Regions from separate parts of the Homo sapiens genome. Here region 1 is linked to region 2. Evidence: fine-mapped expression QTL. Tissue or cell type: whole blood. Region 2 holds a variant in brackets; the other region holds the start of a gene. All regions are shown on one strand. Distances are between the middles of the regions.

Region 1 (9,176 bases), 39 kb before region 2:
CAGGTTGTGCACAACACAAGGGCACCCCATTCACATGAAAACATCTTCATTATTTTGAAAATCTGCAGAGCACTGTGTAGACACATTAGGGATTACCTTACATGAGGCTATACTAATTTATGATAGCAATTATTTATGTGTTGTTATGGAAAACTGGGAGACAAAAATGAATTACTGTTTTGAGATCTTACGAAGCTTGGAAGACAGATTGGCCCTGGGGAGGCAGCGGTGGCCGCAGTTTGCAGGGAAGATTGCTGCCGAGGAGGAATCTGTGCACACGACAGGCTCCAACGATCTGCACAGGGCCACATGGGGCTTTGGCTGAGGACTAAGCTTCGCACGCACTGCACAAAACCCCAAGAGCTGAGCAAAAGTGGCCACCTGGGAGCCCCCTGAAAGCTGCACCAGGACAAGGCCCGTCTGACCAGGTCAAGTGCAGAGCCCCGAGGAACCTGGGTTGGTGATGGAGACCTCAGAAAGTCCCGGCCACTAGAAAAGAAGCATTTACATGATTGAAAAAAACGTTTGCAGAAAAGAGGTGAAATGACAGAACGAGGGAAAGACTCAGCAGAATGTAGCCCAGAGACATCGCGATGGAGACATGAGCTCACTTTCTGTCTCCTCATCAACCAAGAACCCCATAAACAAGGGCAGAATGCTCCCTGCGTCCAGCACTGAGACCGAGACCCAAGATGCACCAAGAGATTGAGAAACTGAGATCCACAGATGCACAAAGACCCACAGACGCACAAAGACCCTCAGACACACAAAGCAAAACGCGTTCTGATGCCCCGTGTCAGACGCGTCCTGAAGGATGAGCGATGGTTTCTGCCCGCTGAGAAGTATCCATCTGGAGCTGAGATTTAAGCCCCTCCACTCAACGGCAGCAGGAGTCTCTCCCCACGCTGGTGTGACCCACATGCAGGGCACCCACACATGTGAGGGGCGCCCGCTGCGAGGAGGTGGTGCCTGCGCCCCCTCCAAGCTGCACCTCAACCTGTCCCACCCTAAAGTGAGACGGACTGGATCCCCCACCGGCCAGGGCTGCTTCGCATCACACCGGTTCCCCCTGCTCTCTGTGCCATCGTCCCCTCCATGTGGCTTCCCAAACCACGGACACCTGGCATCTCCATCAGCCTTGGCCCTGGGCACAGTGAGTGTTTTCCATGCATTTGTGGGATTTTTAAAATAAACTTCTGTTGCCCTCGTTAGATTATAGGCCTTGTGAGAACAGGGACCAAGTCTTTTATGGATGAGGGGCGGGTGTCCGGAGTTTCAACATGGCACTTCCAGGGCTACAAGGAGGTGAATGGATGAAGAGCTCCTGTTGAGTGGAGACAGAGGAGCCCTGAGGCCTCTTTATGAAAAAGCAAAAATAAGCACCATGGAGCAGGTGGTGGTCGTGCCACTGGTGGGAGTGGGATCATCCTGCTAGGCACCAACCATCCCCAACCAACAGAGGAACACAGGCTCTGCCTCCTGCTCCGCATCTCCTCATTACACACAGAAACGTCCTCGGCTCGAGGACAAAAGCCCATCTGTATTCTGATCTGAGCAGGACTGGGTGCCGCCCTCACATCTGGAGGGAGCCTGAGACTACCCGACAGGAGCCACAGGTACCACACGGTGAGGACCCCCTTCCAGACACCCCCCTGCCCAGCTCCTGTGGACCCTCCCCCAACCTTTGCCAGGGGGGACCGTGGTCCTCTGTGGCGTGTCGTCTGCACCCGTCTTCATCGGGGGCACTAGCACCTGCCACACACTCAACAGCATCACTTCCCACTGGAAAAACAATGCCACAAGATTCTTCTTGGCGAGAACAAACCAGAAAATGGGACCTGAAGAAGCCGAGAGCCTCGCCTGTGGTCAGACAGCAGCTGAGCATGGGCAGAGGACAGAGCCCAGGCCGAGGGCCGCGGCCGCCCCCACCCACAAAGACCCCTGTCCTGTCCTGGGTGGAATTCCCACACCAGCTCAGGAGGAGCCCCACCTCCTCACCCTTCCTTGTCCTCATTCCAGGGAAATGGTCTGGAAGAGCACCAGCTCCCCACGGAGCTGACTGTTTCTCTGCTTGCAAATTTCATGAGATTTCTGATTCTGAGCTCGAATCTTCTCTCCACTTTCACCTCTTGCCATTCCTCATGACCGGTCCATTTCAACATCAGGGCCAATTGTTCCTTGTACAATTGCATCTTTTCCACAGTTTAGTACAAGAAACTAGGATTCTCTTCATGTAAAAGCTATTTGATGACAAACACCTTGTTCTAAGTGACTGCCAGGAAGTGCTTGCTAATTTTAAATTCTACATTATGATGAGGCAAAGTTAGTAGGAGCCAAGGGACAGAGCACTCCCATATCTCCTCAGACACTCGCCAGGTGCATCTGTGGAGAAGCCGCCCAGTGAGTCCTTGCATCTCACAGGTGCTTCTCACAGGTGCGTCTCACAGGTGCACCTCACAGGTGCATCTCACATGTGCATCTCACAGGTGCATCTCACAGGTGCGTCTCACAGCTATGTCTCACAGGTGTGCCTCATAGGTGCGTCTCACGTGTGTCTCACGTGTGTCTCACAGGTGCGTCTCAGGTGCGTCTCACGTGTGTCTCACAGGTGCATCTCACAGGTGCATGTCACAGGTGTGTCTCACAGGTGCATGTCACAGGTGCGTCTCACATGTGTGTCTCACAGGTGCATCTCACGTGTTTCTCACAGGTGCGTCTCAGGTGCATGTCACAGGTGTGTCTCACAGGTGCATGTCACAGGTGCGTCTCACATGTGTGTCTCACAGGTGCGTCTCACGTGTGTCTCACAGGTGCGTCTCACAGGTGTGTCTCAGGTGCATGTCACAGGTGAGCCTCACAGGTGCGTCTCACAGGTGCGTCTCACAGGTGTGTCTCACAGGTGTGTCTCACAGGTGCATCTCACAGGTGCATGTCACAGGTGCATCTCACAGGTAAGCCTTACAGGTGCGTCTCACAGCTGTGTCTCACAGGTGTGTCTCACAGGTGTGCCTCACAGGTGTGTCTTTTTGACTGTGTCAAGTCCAACCCAATCAGGGTCCCCCAGCATCATCAGTAGGTATGTAGGGAAGTGAGATGGGGAAAAGATAGAACCAATAGTGTGCCATGGAGCAGTTACCTCTGGGCCCCTGCAGGTAAGGGAGCTGCGGTGTTCACACACAACTCCCATGGTCATGGCTCAGGGTTCCCCAGAGGCTGTGGACTCCTTGCCGCCCTGAACCTACTCACCTACAATCACGACGGGCTCCTGGGGCAGGACAAAGCCACAGGTGAGGAACGCGGTGCTGCGGGTGGAAGCTGCTGTCACAGTCGTGTTAGGGTGAGTGGACTATGGCCGCAGACTGTGGGCTCCTCCCAGCCAACCCTCACTCCCGCTAGCGCCCCAAATCTTCAGTCCAGCACCCCTTCCCCGTCCCACCCACTCTCCACACTGAGCCCTCCCAGCCAACCCTCACTCCCGCTAGCACCACAAATCCTCAGCCCAGCACCCCTTCCCTGTCCCACCTGCTCTCCACACTGAGCCCAGCCACTCCACGCTCCCTTGGGCAGGTGGCAAGGCAGAGCCTGAGGTCAGCTGCCACCCCCAGCCCCACCCCAGGGCCCTCATGCCCCCAGCAAGGCCTCTCCAGCTCTGCGGTCCCACTCAAGATGCGCTTAGCTCATTTCACACGCAGGTGAGTGTCTCAGTTCTGCGGGCACGGAGGCCCCTGTGGGAGGGAGGTTGGCAGGCCCCTCGCTGACGGAGGGGAGCAAGGGGCAAAGTGGGGGTGTCCAGAAGGGGGTTGTGAGGAACTGGGGGACGGGAAAGAGCCCGGAGAGGAAAAAGGAGGTGGGGAGGGGCTGCGTGTGCATAGACCTCAGGGTGGGGCAACCGAGGACCTGAAGGCTGGTTTCCGGCCGCCATCCTCACATCCAGGCGCAATGTGAGCTCATCCCTGGGAGTTGGGAAATGCAACCGGCAGGCTCTGGAGGCTGTTCTGGGACTGAATGCAAAGCAGGCGACCCTCCCCCCGGCCCCAAACCCAAGCACTGCAGCGGCCCCACAACCCCTCCCCCCACCCACATCCCCACTCCCCCGTCCCCAGTGAGAATTCACTATTTTTAGGAAAAAGGGGAAGCCTCTCAGCAGATCCTTGAAAGGAAGTGACTTTGTGACTAAGTGGAGGCAGGAACATCATGGCACAAGGGCACACGTCGCACACCCAGCTGGGCCCACTGTGGACGGCGCAGATGCTGCCTCAGAGCAGCCTCCGAGACAGGCAGCTGCAGCGGTGCAGCCCAGGGCCCTCGCAGAAGCTTCCCCGGGGCCTGGCCTCGTGCTGAGAGAACTCTGCGCTCCTGAGGGCACCTGGCTGTCATGCACACGTGCTCACACGAACACACACACCTACACGTGCGCACACTCACACTCCGTGCACACACGTATGTGCACACTCATGCACGCGTGCACACACGTCTACCAGCTGAGTGCAGTAAAAGAACCACATGAAAACCTTGCATCCTGGTTAAAAGTATGGTGACAACATGGACAGATAAACTGGAAAAGATGGGAAGAAACCTTAAGCCCAGGATCTGGCAGCACAAAGGTGCCTGGAAAGCGACAATCAGCGTTTTTATATTCAGGGAAATCAGGAACACTGCCACCCGCCCGCCAGGCCGGCGCCCATGCCAGACCCAGCCAAGGTGCTTCTGGCCACATCACCCCTGCTGGCCTGCAGGGAGCTGGCCCAGGAGCCGAGAGGCCTATGGGAGCAGGCAAGGCTTGCTGAGGTGACAGCGGAGAGGAGAGGTCGGGCTTTGTTGCCAGGCAGCCCCCCAACATTCAGGTCCTTTTTCCACTGAAAGCCATGTGGCCTCAGAGCGGCGTCACCCCGAAGCTTGTCCCAGCCGGGGCCTGACAGCAGGTAAAGGCTGACTAGCAACTCTGCATCCCTCAGAGTGTGGGGGAAGGTGGATGTGGTCCCACCTCCACATCCAGGGTCCCCTTGCTGGCCTCTGGGCATTTGGGTCCTGGTGTGATTACCCAGCCCCCTCTCCCTGCACAGGGGTGAACTGCATCTCCTGGAGGCAGGGCCAGTGCCCCACCACCTCCCCAGCACACCCGAGCCCAGGTCTGGGCTCCCAGGAGGGCCTGGGGCCACCTGTGGGACCAACCCAAACCCTCAGGCAGCTCCACCAGCAGAAAGCGTCATGCTGTGTGTGGGATAACCTCCTCAGGGGATTAGTTCTCAGGGCCTGGTCCGCTAGAAGCCAAATGCCTGTGCCCAGCCACCCGTGACGCCTGCAACAGGCAGGAGATCCCCCAACAGTTACTCCCAGCCTTCATTCCACAGGGTCTGGTTTTCCTGGAAGGTGGGAAGTCCCAGGGTCTGAGGAGAGGGAGCGCAGGCCCCCATTTGTAGGAGTGAGTCAGCTGACCCGCCCCCGGGGTTCCTAATCTCACTAAGAAAGACTTTGCTGATGACAGGGTTTCCTGGGAGTCCATGCGTGCCTGGAGCAGCAGCGTCTCCAGGGACAGGCAGCCACCATGAGCCTCAGTGAGGAGCAGGCCCGGAGCTTTCTGGACCAGAACCCCGATTTTGCCCGCCAGTACTTTGGGAAGAAACTGAGCCCTGAGAATGTGGCCGCGGCCTGCGAGGACGGGTGCCCGCCGGACTGCGACAGCCTCCGGGACCTCTGCCAGGTGGAGGAGAGCACGGCGCTGCTGGAGCTGGTGCAGGATATGCAGGAGAGCATCAACATGGAGCGCGTGGTCTTCAAGGTCCTGCGGCGCCTCTGCACCCTCCTGCAGGCCGACCGCTGCAGCCTCTTCATGTACCGCCAGCGCAACGGCGTGGCCGAGCTGGCCACCAGGCTTTTCAGCGTGCAGCCGGACAGCGTCCTGGAGGACTGCCTGGTGCCCCCCGACTCCGAGATCGTCTTCCCACTGGACATCGGGGTCGTGGGCCACGTGGCTCAGACCAAAAAGATGGTGAACGTCGAGGACGTGGCCGAGGTGGGTCTGTGCGGAGCCTCAGGGAGGCGGCTGTGTGCATCTCTTGCACCTGTCCCAGGTGTCTAAGGGTCAGCTCGGATCCTCAGGCCTCCAGGGAGGCCTCTTGTCAGGGCACAGGCTAGTTCTGTGCTGAGGAGCAAGTACCTAGAGCCCCCTCCCGGCACTGTGCCCTGGCCGCCTGCCTCTCCGACTCGGCTTCTGGCTCAAGCTGACATCGCATGGCCACTGAGTTGGTTAGACCTGAGTCTAGGAGCCTCGGCTGAAGCAGACTCAGGCTCAAACCGGGGTGCCCCTGATTCTGCATCCACATCCCATGGTGGGGACCATGTAGTCCCTGTGAGGACCCCTGGCTTCCAGGAAGACTGACCAGATGGGGGCTTCAGGGCTCTCTGGGCTGGGAGGGAGGCCCTGCCTTGGGATTTGGGAAGAAGAGGTCACAGTCGAAGGTGGTGCAGACGCCCACAGGGAGGGAGAGCCAGGGGAACCCCAAACTTCCACTGTGGCAGAAGCAGCTTTATCCCATGGGAGCCCACGCCAGCCGCCAGGGGAGAACAAACCTGGTAGCCACTGAGCACAGGGGTCCAGGGTGGGACTGGGGAGGGACAAGAGACAGAATCGAGACAGGCTCACTGGAGTCACTGAAGGAGGGAAGGGCAGGGCCTGTTCATGCAAAGCCTGGGCTAGGGCAGACGCTTCCCGAGGACAGAGGCGGTCCTGGCGGGACTGGAGAACAAGAGGGGTGTGAGGTGCCTGCCAGACTGGGTGAGGGCAGCGGCCAGCAGAGACCTGGAAAGGCCCTGAGGAGCTGCCCGGCAAGGGGGCTCTGAGGAAGAAGGGGAGGGGGGAAGCCCCTTCTCCCTGTCCTGCACCCGTCCCAGCTTCCTCTCCCCTTTTCTGTCCCCACAGCTAAGGAGGCTGCAAGAGGCCCAGGCAGCCTCCGCTCTTGCTGGATGAGCCTTGGGAATTACCCACCAGGCTGCCAGCCCAGGGGCAGGTGTGGTCCCTCCTTCCCAGGCAGCTGGGGAGTGGCAATCCTGGTTTGTTTTCGTTTGTGGGTTTTTTTTTTTTTTGAGACAGAGTCTTGCTCTGTCACCAGGCTGGAGTACAGTGGCATGATGTCAGCTCACTGCAACCTCCGTCTCCCACGTTCAAGCGATTCTCCTGCCTTGGCCTCCTGAGTAGCTAGGACTAGAGGTGCCCGCCACCACACCCGGCTAATTTTTGTATTTTTAATAGAGACAGAGTTTCGTCATGTTGGTCAGGCTGTTCTCGAACTCCTGACCTCAGGTGATCAACCTGCCTCAGATTTCCAAAGTGCTGGGATAACAGGCGTGAGCCACCGCACCAGGCCGGAAGTGGCAATCCTCTTATCCCAATGGCAGTAAGCAAGCAGCAAGGCAGTGACCTAGATTCAGTAATCCCCGGGTTACCTTCATCTCCACCTCCCTCCTAAGAAGTGGGGCACCCACAAATCAATCGTGCATCAGGAGCATGAGTTACCAGGAAGCCAGGAAACTTCACAGCAGTGGGGCCTGGGGTGGACACCAGCTGCTCCTCCCTCCCCCCGTTCCCTCCTCCCTCCTCCCCTCACTCTCCTGCCACCCTCCTCCCTCCTTTTCTGCCATCCTCCCCGTCTCCCTTCCTTCCTCCTGCACACAATCCCCAAGACAACTTCTCATCCCCACCCTGTCCCAAATCTGGGCTGTGTCTTTCTTGCCCCCAGGAGTTTGTCCCCCGCTGCCACCACCCCTTCACCCCTTTGTCCCCACCCGGCTGATGGTGTCTCTTCCCTGCTCTGCGGGTCCCCCTCAAACTGCTGGGCTGTCCTAGGTCCGTCCCTCGGCCTGGCCTGTTCCCCAGGGCTGTTCTAGGTCCTGCCACCCCCACCCCCAGTGCCATGGCCGCACCTGCCCCAGGACTGACCTCCGAGGCCTCTCCCCTGCCCAGTGTAGCTGGTGCCATTCCAAGGGGCTGGGCATGGTGTCTGTCCCTCCATTCTGTGGAGTCTTAGTTATCTCAGACTAAGGGAACAGAAACTTGAGTCTGAATTGCCACCAAAAAAAGCAAATCTTCATGAAGTGCAAATCCTCATGAAGTGCAAAGCCTCATGAAGTGCATCTCAGCACCCTAAGCACTGCCAAGTGGCTTCTGGGTTCATGTCTCAGTTTACAGAAGGGGGGACTGAGGCAGAGCACACCTCAGTCTGGCCCACTGCACCCTCTTTGGAGGGCGTGAGCCGCACCGGCCAGTTCAGGAGAGCAGCTCGTGGCTGTGGTGGAAGAGTCCCTCAGACGGGGCGTGGGTGGCCAGCACGCAACACCCGGGCCACCCGGAGTCTCACCCTCCTGCCCGGGCCACCCGGAGTCTCGCCCTCCTGAGCCTTGTCTCCCTGTTTACATTGGGGAACTAATGTCTGCCTCTCAAGGGTGCTGCAGCGGCTAAACCAGCCTGCTCCTGAGCACAGCGGGCCCTGAGTCTGCAGGGCAGGCAGGCCCCGGGTAACCCGCTCCTCCCTGAGCTGCAAGCGTCCATCCTCCTGGAGCTGAGGGTGCCAGCCCAGGGTGAAGGCTGCAGTAGCCTGGCCTGTGGGCCCTCCTGTCCCCAGGGGTCTGTCCCAGGAGCCACCATGGAGGGAGGGGCTGCCCAGGGCTCACACTCTCGGGCCTACAGGGAGCCCAGGCGGTGCCAGGCCACGTGGGACCAGCTTCTGGGAGGTGCAGGGCTTCAGCTGATGGCTCCAAGTCCCTGTCTGCTCCCAGAACCCCACGACTACACATGTTGTGTGTCACGGCAGCCCCTTGGGGAGACACAGCGAATCCCAGGGCCTGCACAAGGGGGGCCCTGCCGGGACTCAGGACTGAGCACAACCTTCCTGGAGCCTGGCCCAGGCCTGGGCATGGATTGTGAACCCTAAAACCTTGGGCTCAGGAACCACAGGTCCCAGAAGGCGGACACCAGGCCCCCCTCCATCCCTCCCAACATGTCAGAAGCCAATGGGCCAGCCGGGTGAGAGGCCCTGCCCAGCTACCCAGTGTTCATGGCTCCTAGACAAGCCTCTTGGCAGGAAGGAAGCACAGGTCGGGTGCAGAGAGGGAGGAGCGAGTGGGCCTGTGAGGTGGCATGGCCTTCCCCATCCCCCGCTGTGCACCCCGGGCAGGGACGC
Region 2 (8,000 bases):
AGTTTTCACCGGATGTTTAGTGGGCCTGACTTGGACTCTGTGTCCATCTATGTCATCTCTGCTCTCAGAGTGCCTAGGTGCCTGCAACTCCCAGTGTGTGTGCATCCGCATGTGTGCACGCACATGGGTGTCTGTGTGCATGTGTGTGCACATGTGGGTGTCTGTGTGTGCACAAGTGTGTACGTGTGTGTGCATGTAGGTGTGTGTGCACACGTGGGCGTCTGCACAGGTGTGTACATGTGTGCACATGTGGGTGTGTGTGTGCACATGTGGGTATGTGTGTGCGTGTGTGCATTGTATGAATGTGCACATGTGTACACATGTGTGTGCACATGTGTGCCCACGAGTATGTGTGTGCATGTGTGTGCACATGGGCGTTTGTGTGTGTGTGCCCGTGTGTGCACCCATGTGTGTGTGCTCACATGTGCACAGGGGGTGTGTATTGTGTGTGCATGTGTGTGCACATGGATATATATAGACACATGCTTGTGTGTGTCTCCTAGAGACGATTGCTGGATCAATGTGGGGATTATGTGGTGTCCCCATCACCCTGTGTCTGCCTATGCAATTTAGCCAGAATCTCCCGGGGCCACGAGCCTTGTGAGTAGGCCTTGGACTGAGCATGGGAATGTGCCTGGTGGGTCTGAAAGTCCACTGTTGTGTGTGTTACCTCATGGCTGTGTGTGTGAGCCTACATGCGTGAGTCTGCACGTGTGTGCCTGCATGTCTGTGGGTGTGCCTGGGTGCTCATGTGTGTGCCTGTGTGTCCACACCGGTGCCTTTGTATTCATGGGAGTGGCCGTGTATCCAGGTGTGCCTGTGTCACGTGTGTCTGTATCCGTGTGTGTGTGTGTTTCTTTTCATGTGCACACCTTTGTGTTTTCTTGTCTCAACAACATCACCCTGTCCACCCAACTGGGCAAGTTCTTCACTGTTGGGCCACAGGGTACAAGAGGGGAGAGTGAGGCTGAGCCAGGGGGGCGTGTGAGCAGCCTGGGATACAGGCTGGAGCGCCAGGAATGACACATCTCCTCAGAGATGCCTGAGGTGTCTGAGGCTTGGCAGGGGATCTGGAGAGAAGAAAGGATGAGAAGCAAGTGGGGGCTGTGGCAGGCCAACCTCCCTCAGCCCACAATCCCTCCCACAGAAGGAGGAGCTGCCAGGGCCCACCACATTTGACATCTACGAATTCCACTTCTCTGACCTGGAGTGCACCGAACTGGACCTGGTCAAATGTGGCATCCAGATGTACTACGAGCTGGGCGTGGTCCGAAAGTTCCAGATCCCCCAGGAGGTGGGAGACACCGCAGGGCGCATAGTCAGGTCCCTGAGGCCGCCCAGGACATGGGGGTGGGGATGTGATCAGGGCCTCAGGTGCCCCAGAAGGTGAGGGGGATGGGATTGGGGGTTCCAGATCCCACAGGAAGTTTAGAGGGCCGACATGTTCATCACAGAACAGGTAAAATGCACACGGGAAGTAAGCATAAAACAAATAATTGGATGGCTGGGTGGATGGCTGGATTGATGGATGGCTGGATGGGTGAAAAGCAGGGAGGAAGGAGGGAGGTTAGGAAGGAAGGAAGGCCAACAGGCAAGCAGAAAGAAACAAAGGAAGAATAAATGAATGGATGGGTGGATGCCAATGGTAGTTGGATAGTTGGATAAATGGATGGGTGGGTGGGCCAATGGTAGTTGGATGGTTGGATAAATGGATGGATGGGTGAGTGGGCCAATGGTAGTTAGATGGTTGGATAAGTGAATGGATAGGTGGATGGATGGAGAAGTGGGTGGATGAGTGATAGATGAGTAGGTGGGTCAATTAATGAATTAATAGATGGGTCAATGAATGGGTGAATGGATGGGTGGACAGCAGATGGATGGTGAATGGATAGATTTAAAGTTTTATTATTAGGAGTTCCAAGCAATTTGATCATTAGGCACATCATCTGGCAATAACAGGGGATTTGGTGTGGGGTGCTGAGGAGATAGAAGCATCCCATCACCTAAACAGAAAGCACAAAGTGGCCCCCCTGGTTTGGCCACAGCAGCACTCCTCGGAGACCCCCTGGGGAGGCGGGATGGCTTTCCCAGCCCTCGTCCACAGCTCTGTGCCCTCCCTGGGTTCTCCTGCCCTGCCCTGCTTCCAACATCTCAAGGGGCTTCCCACAGCCCTAGGAAGAGAATCCTCTTTTCTCATGCCCCTCTGAGAACAGGTGCAGCAGGCCAGCATTTTCAAAAGAAGTTTTACTAAATACTAAGGGAAAACACTCAAGAAAAAATGTATAGAAAATATTTGCAGAATAAAAAATATTTCCAAATAATTTTCTGACCCTAAAAATCACAATGGCCGCAGGAAGAGCCTCCTGGCGATGTCCGCAGGGCAAGAGAGACCAGCATTCTCTTGCCCTGCGGACATCGGTTCTCCCACCCCAGCCTGCAGCCCACACATTCTGCTCATTCAAATGTCCATGCCTAAAACCAACATCTTAAAATATGCTGCATCCCCAGGGGTCCTCCTCCCAGCTTGAGGCCAGGCAGTCGGATGGAGGCTGGGCGGCCCCTGAAGGCTGGGGCTGTTCTCAGCTCCTGCCCTACCTGGCTCCACCCCATAGGTGCCAATGTGGCAGCCCCTACCCAGGAAGGCCAGCAGAGGCCAGTGGGAAACGCAGGGATGGGGAAGATCGGGAAGTCCAGGAGACGGTGTGGGGATGATGGCACGGAGCAGGGCTTCCACTGTGAAGTCAGCCACAGGTGCCGCTCTGGCGGGACTTACACGCTTGCCGCCGGAGCCCTGTGTCCTCTCGGCTCCCCCAGGTCCTGGTGCGGTTCCTGTTCTCCATCAGCAAAGGGTACCGGAGAATCACCTACCACAACTGGCGCCACGGCTTCAACGTGGCCCAGACGATGTTCACGCTGCTCATGGTACGTGGCTGCCAGAATCACCAGGGTTGTGCAGGCCCTCCTGGTACCAAGGGCAGCACTCAAGCACCCCGAGGGATGAGATGGGGGTCCTCCCAGGGCAGAAGGATGGAGGAGGGCAACGCCCTCTGACACCGTGCACCGCGCACCCCAGCCCTGCGGTGGTCGGAGGTCCAACCTCCAACCCGACGCCTAGGTCATCCCAACCCCTCACCACTCCCCACCCTGCTGGAGCCAGGACCGGTGAGCAAGGTGGCCCTGTCTCTACAGACCGGCAAACTGAAGAGCTACTACACGGACCTGGAGGCCTTCGCCATGGTGACAGCCGGCCTGTGCCATGACATCGACCACCGCGGCACCAACAACCTGTACCAGATGAAGTAGGCACCTCAGGGCGGGCATGTGAATTAGCCCTAAATCAACTCCACGCCCTTGGCGTGAATTAGGCTTCGCATAGCAGGCTATGTAGAAAGTGGAGTCCACGGCCAGGCCCCGTACTCCAGCACTGTGGGAGGCCAAGGCGAGGGGATTGCTTGAGCCCAGGAGTTCGAGACCAGCCTGGGCAACATGGCAAGAGCTCTCCTCTACAAAAACT[TA/T]AAAAAAAAAAAAAAAAAAAAAGCTGTGTATGGTGGCGCACACCTGTGGTCCCAGCTACTTAGGAGGCTGAGGTGGGAGGATCACTTGAGCCCAGGAGGTCAAGGCTGTATTGAGCCATGATTGCACCACTGCACTCCAGAGTGGGTGACAGAGGCAGACCCTGTCTCAAAAAAAAGAAAGTGGGGCCCATCTGGGGGGGCTGCAGAGCGCAGGGTGGGCCAAGGGCAGGTCCCACGGGCCTCACCTCCACCACCTGTGTAACAGGTCCCAGAACCCCTTGGCTAAGCTCCACGGCTCCTCGATTTTGGAGCGGCACCACCTGGAGTTTGGGAAGTTCCTGCTCTCGGAGGAGGTTGGTATACTCACCCTCGGTTTCTGCTGTGGGCGCTGGGGACGCAGCGTCCGCAGGACGGCAGGGCCGTATCCTGCGGAGCAGGGTTCTGATGCAGCGGGTGAGCACTGGGTGTGTGAGCACTGGGGGAGGGCGGCAGAGAAGGCGGAGGGCCGAGGCTGAGGGCAGGTGCATCGGAGGCCCTGGGAAAACGCTTGTGGGGAAGACAACTGGAAAGGGCCCCTCATGGGGTGGGGTGGAAGCCGAAGGGGAAGCGGCCCGGGACCCACCAGCGGGGGAATGAAGGGCAGCCGAGCCCTGAGCGGCCCCCAAGGACCTGGACACTCAGTGGACCCCTCCCTGCGCTCCCCGGTGGTGACCTCTGAGGCCATCTGCGTCCCAAGCCGACGATGGAGCCGCTGGTGGAGAGCTGGGCACCCTGAGGAGGGCCCTGAGCAGCAGGCGGATTAGGGGTCCCGCCCACCGAGGGCCCGAGGGCGGGGGCGTGAGAGGCACAGGCAGCCGAGGCGGAAGGGGCGGGGTCCCCGGGCACCCTGAGAGGTGGCCGCAGGGCGCCTGACGCGCTGGGCATAACCTCCGCAGACCCTGAACATCTACCAGAACCTGAACCGGCGGCAGCACGAGCACGTGATCCACCTGATGGACATCGCCATCATCGCCACGGACCTGGCCCTGTACTTCAAGTGCGCGCCTTCCGGGAGGGGGCGCCTCGCGGGGCGGGCGGGTAGCCTGGGACCCCCGGCAGACACGGGGGCGCAGCGGCGGCACAGCCCGGGGGACGCAGCCCCGGATTCCGTCCCTGCCCGCCGGCCCCGCGCACCCCGGATGGGGCCTCGCTCGGGCTCCGCGCCTCCCTGCAGACGGGCGCTTGGGGCGGGGTCTCCACACTTGCTCCCACCTGCACCTCCCTTGTTCCCTGGGTTCAGGAAGAGAGCGATGTTTCAGAAGATCGTGGATGAGTCCAAGAACTACCAGGACAAGAAGAGCTGGGTGGAGTACCTGTCCCTGGAGACGACCCGGAAGGAGATCGTCATGTGAGCGCGGGCGGAGGGGGCACGAGGGGTCCTTCCCTCGCAGGGACCGGGCCCACTCACCAGCTGGTTAACCCTGCAGCCCTCCCCAGACGCTCTGGAGCAGGAAGAGCCCGTCGCGGCAGCTTGTCGAGGGCTGTGAAACAAATGCGCCGTCCTTATTTCCCCCCAGCTCTCAGGGAGATGGTGCAGAGCTGGGGAGCACACAGGCCCTGCATTGGTCTGTAGCCCTTGGCAGTAACTTACTTCATTTTGACCTTCCACTTTTTCACCTGTAAAATGGTGATTCACAACCAGCCCCTCCCCAGGCTGGTCCCAGGGACCCAGTGAGAAAATACACATAAACCCAGCACTTGGGAGGCCGAGGGGAGTGGATCACCTGAGGTCAGGAGTTCGAGATCAGCCTGGCCAACATGGTGAAACCCCGTCTCTACCGAAAATACAAAAATTAGCCGGGCGTGGTGGCGGGCGCCTGTAATCCCAGCTACTCGGGAGGCTGAGGCACAAGAATCGGGAGGCGGAGGTTGCAGTGAGCTGAGATTGCGCCATTGCACTCCAGCCTGGGCAACAGAGCAAGACTCCATCTCAAAAAAGAAAACACATATAAACCACCTGCCCTCAGGAGACGCCCATCAGCACTCGTGCCCGGTTTGTGTCTGCAGGGCCATGATGATGACAGCCTGCGACCTGTCTGCCATCACCAAGCCCTGGGAAGTCCAGAGCAAGGTTAGAACAGAGGGCCCTCCAGACCCAGAGTCAGTGCCTCTCAGCACATGGGACTGCCGGGCGGGCGGGAGCCTCGGATGGCAACGGACCATTGTTTGCAAGGAGCTCTGAGGGCCACCTCGGGGCCAGGCCAGGGCGGCAAGGATGGGGGTACTGCAGTGTGTCTACATGGCTCAACCGGAGCCCTGTGTGGTGGGGACCCCGGGGGTCTGGGGCGGAGAAGACCGAGGCTCGGAGCCTCACGGGGCGGGCCCGGGCCCTTCCGCGTGGGCTCAGAGCTCCACAGACAGCTGCCTTCCTGTGCCTCCAGGTCGCACTTCTCGTGGCTGCTGAGTTCTGGGAGCAAGGTGACTTGGAAAGGACAGTCTTGGATCAGCAGCCCATTGTGAGTGCTGCTTCTGGAACCTTCCACTCCTGAAACGGGTGTTAGAGACCCCTCTTGGTCCTCAGGAGCCTCAGGTCCTGGCTTGGTCTCAGGCAGGGGGTTCTGAGGTCGTGGGGTCCTTATCTCACTTTGTGGGATCATGTGACATGCGTGTGGGTGGCTCGGACCTGGGTACAGCTGTGGCTTGGGTGATGCTTATGCAGAGGTGACGTCGTTGGCACTGGAGGAACCAGGGCCACCCGCTCATCACCAGGAGCCTCTGGGTCCAGGCAGCTCTGCAGGTGAACCCCAGCAGGGCCGCGAGCCATGCACCAAGAAAGCCCTGGGGAGGGTGCTGGGGCAGAGAACGCATGGGGGGCGTCCCGGGCCCACACAGTGGTATGATGGACAATGCCAGGGTCCTCAGGTCAGCAGCGGGGTCTGGATACCTCCTGGCAGCAGGAGAGGTGCCAGCAAATGGGAGAGTCAGGATAGGCGCCAGGAACAGGAGAGGCAGGGCTGCCCCAGCCCCACGTGGACCAGGTGGGAGCTGTGGTTTCTCACACACCCGCTCTGGTGGGCGGCGAGGGGCTCTCTGGAGCCTGCAGTGGAGAGGGCTTAGGCCAGGTGCAGCCTCGGCAGGAAAGGGGGCATTGGTTGGTCAGCAAAGCCCCACAGGGGAAGGACAGGCAGCAGGTCCATCCCCCGCGCCCGGCCTCTAGAGTCCTGCATGGTTCACCCTCCACCAGGACGCTGTGAGGGGACGGACAGCCCAGGGCACTCGGGGTCTGACACTAGAAACAGCTCCAGAGCACGTCTGTGTCTGCCCCAGGCGAGTGCACAGCGAGGTCCTGGTCAGCCGAGTGTCTGGGCAGTGCAGCCCAGCCCGGCTCAGCACTGTGTACAGCCCATCCCCCTCCCCGCCTCTCCCCAGCTGCAGTAAGGGTCCCCAGAGCCAAGAGGGGGCTGCCCTCAGGGGACCACGGGCTGGAGCCAACAGCAGCTGTGGGAAGAAGCTGCCCACAGTTCCTAGGAGCTGTGGAGCCGCTGGCCAAGGGAGAGGGTGTCAGCTTCCCCTCCCGAGAGCCAGTTTCTGTCAGGCAGGCTCGTCCCAGGCTGTGTCTCCATGAGCACATCTGAGTGAGGGGGTCGGGGGGCTGGGCGGGGCCCCAGGAGCTGCCTCCCTGGTCACTGTTCTCCCGCCCTCTGTTCCTCCCACCAGCCTATGATGGACCGGAACAAGGCGGCCGAGCTCCCCAAGCTGCAAGTGGGCTTCATCGACTTCGTGTGCACATTCGTGTACAAGGCGAGTGGTTCACGGGTGTTCCGAGCTGACTGGGGCAGGGTGGCTGGGAGCAGGCAAGGGGGCGCGGGCTGGAGTCGCGTGGACTCACACGGGCCCGGCGGTGTCCTCACTGGAGTAGGGATGCCAGTGCCAGCTTCGTGCCGCTCTTGAGTGGGGCAAATGGGGAGGAACATCAGTTTCCGGACCCCCACAGGTGCCCCAGCCCATCCTCACCCTGCTGTGCCCCTGGAAGCTCTGAGCCCTTTCCCAGCCCAGAATGTCCTCTGCTAGCCTCCAGGCCTACCCCAGAAGTTCTCCCTCAGTGCCCTCCGCCGTGGCCAGCACACTGTTTTGGGGGCCTTGGCTGCAGCTCTGTGGGTTCATTTGTTCCATGTTTGTGAACCCTCGAGGCGGGGCTGGGTCGGCCTGTCTGCTGGTGCACCCGCCCACAGGGGCGTTTGGAACAGCAGAAGGAGCCACATCCCTGCCAATCTGCCACAGTCCGATGCCAGCTGAGTCTCTGAGGACGCAAGGCGGACATGGAGGGGGAGACTCGATGGGGCAGGGGTCTGACCGTGGGGCCCTGTGTGATGCCCATAAGAGCCAGCTGCCTCCGGCCACACTCCCTGGTGATGGAATCCACGCCCCAAGGAGGATGCCACGGGTTCCACATGAAGTTGTCCCGGAGTGGGCTGTGCCCACTCCCCGCCCCATCCTACCCACCCC

Evidence for each region. PIP is the estimated chance that this variant, and not a neighbour inherited with it, causes the effect.
Region 1: it holds the start of PDE6B, and the variant in region 2 is fine-mapped to the expression of PDE6B in whole blood (INTERVAL, PIP above 0.99).

Annotation. Positions count from the first base shown.
Region 1 is chr4:620,082-629,257 of GRCh38, forward strand. PDE6B (phosphodiesterase 6B) reads left to right here and starts at 5,492. Exons shown (of 22, transcript NM_000283.4): 1 at 5,492-6,013. The coding sequence starts at 5,546. RefSeq lists enhancers at 3,188-4,178, 5,168-6,157, 6,158-7,146.
Region 2 is chr4:659,320-667,319 of GRCh38, forward strand. PDE6B (phosphodiesterase 6B) reads left to right here. Exons shown (of 22, transcript NM_000283.4): 12 at 1,148-1,294; 13 at 2,815-2,922; 14 at 3,190-3,299; 15 at 3,781-3,868; 16 at 4,451-4,551; 17 at 4,795-4,902; 18 at 5,562-5,625; 19 at 5,936-6,010; 20 at 7,212-7,295. Among named protein-coding and RNA genes, the nearest start is that of PDE6B-AS1, 8.1 kb to the left of the region's middle. RefSeq lists an enhancer at 4,054-4,646 and a silencer at 4,241-4,710. The variant TA/T (reference allele first, on the strand shown) is at 3,515.